Linked DNA regions of Homo sapiens: region 2 is linked to region 1. The links come from fine-mapping of genetic effects on gene expression. Tissue or cell type: whole blood. Region 1 holds a variant in brackets; the other region holds the start of a gene. All regions are shown on one strand. Distances are between the middles of the regions.

Region 1 (2,681 bases):
AGGCAGGAGAATCACTTGAACCCAGGAGACTGAGGTTGCAGTGAACCGAGATCACGCCACTGCACTCCAGCCTGGGCGACAGAGCGAGACTGTCTCAAACAAAAAAAAAGAAAGCATTTTTAAATAAGAAATATTTTCTTAACATCGCTTATCATTAGGGAAATGCAAATCAAGACCACAATGAGATACCACTTCACACCCAAACAAAACACAACAGAAAATAACAAGTATGGGTGAAGACATAGAGAACTCGGAGTGCTGTGCAGCATGATTGGTAAGAATGTAAAATGGTGCAACCTTTGTGGAAAGCAGCAGGGCGCAAATTGAAAAAGACAGAGGCAAATGGCCATTAGCTGATAGCAAACATCTGCATTAAAGGAGCTTTTTTTTTTTCTTTTTTGGAAGGTCTCCAAAAATGAAAAAAAAAGCTCACCACAGCCTCAACTTCTTGGGCTCAAATGGTTCTCCCGCCTCAGCCTCCTGAATAGCTGGGACCACAGGCATGCGCCACCACACCTAGCTAATTAAAAAAAATTTTTTTTGGTCTGGCACAGTGGCTTATGCCCATAATCCCAGCACTTTGGGAGGACAAGGCAGGCGGATCACCTGAGGTCAGGAGTTCGAGACCAGCCTGGTCTACATGGTGAAACCCCGTCTGTCTAAAAATACAAAAATTAGCCAGGTGTGGTGGTGTGTGCCTGTAATCCCAGCTATTCAGGAGGCTGAGGCAGGAGAATTGCTTGAACCCAGGAGGTGGAGGTTGCAGTGAGCTGATACCATGCCATTGCACTCCAGCCTGGGTGACAGAATGAGACTCTGTCTCAAAACGAAACAAAACAAAACAAACAAAACACTAGCCGGCCATGTTGGCACACGTCTGTAATCCCAGCTACTTTGGAGACTGAGACACAAGAATCGCTTGAATCCAGGGGGCAGAGGTTGCAGTGAGCTGAGATCACGCCACTGCTCTCCAGCCTGGGCGACAGAATGAGACTGTGTCTCAAAAAAAAGCAAAAAAAAAAAAAAAACCCAAAACACTAGCCAGGTATGGTGGCACACATCTGTAATCCCAGCTACTTGCGAGGCTGAGGCACAAGAATCGCTTGAATCCAGGAGGCAGAGGTTACAGTGAGCTGAGATCGCACCACTGCACTCCAGCATGGGCGACAGAGTGAGACCCCATTTCAAAAAAAAAAATATTTTTTTTTGTTTAGAGATA[G/A]GATCTCGCTCTCTGGCCCAGGAAGGTGTCAAAATCCTGGCCTCAAGTGGTCCTCTTGCCTTGGCCTCTGAAAGTGCTGGGATTACAGGCATGAGCCACAGCACCCAGCCTTGTTTTGTTTTACTAGCTATTCTCATGGGTGTGACATGTTATCTCTCCCTCTTTTTTTTTTCGAGATGGGGCCTCGCTCTGTCACCCAGGCTGGAGTGCAAGGGCGCGATCTCAGCTCACTGCAACCTCCACCTCCCAGGTTCAAGTGATTCTCCTGCCTCAGCCTCCCGAGTAGCTGGGACTACAGGCACGTGCCACCACGCCCAGCTAATTTTTTGTATTTTTAGTAGAGACAGGGTTTCACCGTGTTAGCCAGGATGGTCTTGATCTCCAGACCTCGTGATCCACCTGCCTCGGCCTCCCAAAGTGCTGGGATTACAGGCATGAACCACCACACCCAGCCTCTCCCTCTTTTTTTTTATTTTTATTTTTTTTTTGAGACAGAGTCTCACTGTTCAACTAGGCTGGAGTGCAGTGAGATGATCATGGCTCACTATGGAGTCAACCTGCGGGGCTCAGGTGATCCTCCACCTCAGCCTCCCAAGTAGCTGGGACTACAGGAGCACACTACCTCACTCAGGTAATTTTTTTTTTTTTAGAGGGAGTCTTGGTCTGTCACCCAGGCTGGAGTGCAGTGGCGCGATCTCAGTTCACGGCAACCTCTGCCTCCCAGGTTCAAGCGATTCTCCTGCCTCAGCCTCCGGAGTAACTGGGATTACAGACACCCACCACCATGCCTAACTTTTTGTATCTTTAGTAGAGATGGGGTTTCACCATGTTGGCCAGGCTGGTCTCGAACGCCTGACCTCATGATCTGCCCACCTCGGCCTCCCAAAGTGCTGGGATTACAGGTGCGAGCCACTGTGCCCTGGCTATATTTTATTTTAGTATTTATTTATTTATTTGTTTATTTATTTATTTATTTATTGAGAGGGAGTCTTGCTCTGTTGCCCAGGCTGGAGTTCAGTGGCATGATCTCAGCTCATTGCAACCTCTGCCTCCCAGGTTCAAGTGATTCTCTCACCTCAGCCTCCCCAGTATCTGGGACTACAGGCACATGCCAGCACATCTGGCTAATTTTTGTATTTTTAGTAGAGACAGGGTTTTTACTAAATTTTTCATATTTTTAGTAGAGATGGGGTCTCCCTATGTTGCCCAGGTCAGTCTCAAACTCATAGCTCAAGGGATCCATCCACATTAGCCTCCCAAAGTGCTGGGATTACAGGCATGAGGCACTGTGCCCCACCGTGACAGTTTACTTCATTGTGGTCATCCTCTTGATATTTTGAAAGCATTCAAACTCTACAGTGGCTTTTATATAATTAAACAACAATTTTAAAGAGATGGAGGTGTCACTATGTTGACCAGGCTGGTCTTAAACTCCTGGTCTCAAACTCCTCGTCTCAAGCAA
Region 2 (2,681 bases), 380 kb after region 1:
CTGGGACTACAGGCGCCCGCCACCTCGCCCGGCTAATTTTTTATATTTTTGGTAGAGACGGGGTTTCACCATGTTGGTCAGGCTGGTCTTGAACTCCTGACCTCGTGATCCGCCCACCTCAGCCTCCCAGAGTGCTGGGATTACAGGTGTGAGCCACCGCGCCCGGCTTTTTGCCTTTCCGTTTCAATGGCTCATCTGGTCAGTCCTCTACCACTCTAAAAAGATTTAACTATTGGCGGAGAGCAGGAGCTCACGCCTGTAATCCCAGCACTTTTGGAGGCCAAGGCAGAAGGATCCGTTGAGCCCAGGAATTCGGGACCAGCCTGGGCAACAAAGCAAGAACCCCAACATAAAAAAAAAAATCTGTATTTAAAAGCCAAACACAAATAACAAACAAAAAACACCAGCCTGGGCAACATAGTGAAACCTCATATCTACTAAAAACACAAATTAGCCGGGCGTGGTGGTGCGCCCTGTAGTCCCAGCTACTCGGGAGGCTGAGGCAGGAGGATCACTTGAGCCCGGGAAGTCGAGGCTGCAGTGAGCTGTGATCGCGCCACTGCACGCCGGCCCGGGTGACAGGAGTGAGACCCTGACTCAAAAATAAATACATATATAAATAAAAATTAACTATTGTCTCTGGCCCCAGACCATAGGTGTCCCTGCAGCAGGGGCCGACTGGCGTGCTCTCCACTCGGGCCCCTCTAGGAGGTGCTAAGTAAATATTTGAACGAAGACCTCTGAGTCCCTGTCTGGCTGCGACTATGTCCTCTCAGGCCTTCCCACGTGGCAGCTGCAGGCTCCTTTCCTGCTGGCTCAGTCTGAGCCCGGCAGGGTGATCCCTTCCTCATCCACTCCGTCTCTCCGTTTCCCTTTCTTCACGGTGCTTGACACTATCTAATATTATTTGGTTGTTTGAATGTGCGCGTCCAGCTCCCAGGACGCTCCCTGCACACAGTGAATGAATAAATGAATGAAATAAAGCGCCCAGCTCGTAGTAAGGGCCAATGAATGTCTATTAGTAGTGGAACCTCGGATTGGGTGGCTCCAGCCCTGCCTCCCTTCCCTCAGGAGGCGCCGAGGTCCCAGAGCAGCCCGCGCGACCCTGCCCCTGACCTTTCTCCCTGGGTCAGTTAAACCAGCCTTCTTTCCCGCCTGCCGGGTTCATTTGAAAACCGAAAACCCCGCCATTGCCGGCGGTCCACCGGTTGCCACACTCTGACCAATCAGGAGCGACGCGTTTCACGCCGAGCCCGAAGTTTCCCCGGCGACGCGCAGCCACTGGTTATGCAGGCCCTGTGGGCGGAACGCCGTAAGGTCGCGCGCCGGGCAACGCGGTGCCGCTACACAGTAGCGAGTTTGTAAGAAAACAAATCAGTTGCGTTCGGGGCGTGGCCGGGAGCACGTTGGCTCCGCCCCCTGGCGGCTGCCTCAGCGGCGGCGGCGGCGCAGGCTCAGAGCAGACCCCGCCCGGCGAGGAGGAGGGAGGGTGAGTTAGGGGGAGACCCGGCCCCCAAGGGGCGGGCGCCGGGCAGGGCCCCGCGGGCGGCCGAGGGTTGGGCCCGGCTCCCAGCCCCTCGCCGTCCTCCGGCTGACAGGGGGAGGAGCCCGCCGGGAGGGCCGGGGTCTCGGGCTGGGGAGCCGGGACGGGAGAGCAGCGCAGCCGGGTGCACCGCGGCCGCGCCCCGGGAGGGCTGTTCGGGCCAGCGCCCGCCGGCTGCTCCGCGCTGACAGCGCCGGGCTGGGGCGGGGCGGGGGGCTTTGCAGGCCGCCAGTGTCGACATGCTGCTGGAGGAGGTTCGCGCCGGCGACCGGCTGAGTGGGGCGGCGGCCCGGGGCGACGTGCAGGAGGTGCGCCGCCTTCTGCACCGGGAGCTGGTGCATCCCGACGCCCTCAACCGCTTCGGCAAGACGGCGCTGCAGGTGAGGCCGGGCCGGTCCAGGTTGGGGCGGGGCGGCTAAGCGGGATGAGGATCGAGACCCCAGAGCTCCTCTCTGGTCTCCTGGCCCTGGTGGTGACCCACTGGGAACCGGTCCTTCTTCTCTAGGCTTTCATTGTTCCCCCACAGTCCCCCTTCGAAGGTGGGTGGTGGGTGAGGCTAGGTTGTGGGGGGAGGGGAGAGCTTTTTAGCATCTTCTCTGGGAGGATTCCTGGTTCTCTGAGTGCCGGGGATTCACTTTCCCTGGGGAGGTTCTTATTCCGTGGGTGCGGGTTCAGCTCCTTTGGATGCCGTTTCCATGGGGACGGCTCACGTTTCTTGGGGCTTCTATGGGGAGATCCGATCTCTGGAAGGAGAGGTCCTGTCTCTAGGGGTTCCTCATTTTGTAGGGGGCTCTCTGAGACAAATCTGGTTACTTGGGGGTGGGGTCTTCATTCCTAAAGGTTATGCGGATCCTTGATATAGTATGGGGGCCCCAATGGAGGAACAATGTCAGATTGCAAGACATCCCTATATTCCCTGGGAGACATTTTACAGGGAAGTCTCGTTTCTCTTTTATTATTACTTTTGGAATCCCGCTTCTTGAAAGGAGCTCTCAGGTACTCTGAGGTGACATCACCATTATGTAGGAGGAGGCTATTTCCTGGAGAAGGGGTTCGCTTTCCTTTGACATCTTTTTTCCCTTATGAGGACTATCAATTCTTTGGGGGTAGTTCTCCATCTCTGGGGGCCCATTTCCTG

What was found. PIP is the estimated chance that this variant, and not a neighbour inherited with it, causes the effect.
Region 2: it holds the start of CDKN2D, and the variant in region 1 is fine-mapped to the expression of CDKN2D in whole blood (INTERVAL, PIP above 0.99).

The regions. Positions count from the first base shown.
Region 1 is chr19:10,943,138-10,945,818 of GRCh38, reverse strand. No RefSeq gene overlaps it. Among named protein-coding and RNA genes, the nearest start is that of TIMM29, 16 kb to the right of the region's middle. The variant G/A (reference allele first, on the strand shown) is at 1,220.
Region 2 is chr19:10,567,755-10,570,435 of GRCh38, reverse strand. CDKN2D (cyclin dependent kinase inhibitor 2D) reads left to right here and starts at 1,457. Exons shown (of 2, transcript NM_001800.4): 1 at 1,457-1,923. The coding sequence starts at 1,783. RefSeq lists a silencer at 1,191-1,840 and an enhancer at 2,121-2,290.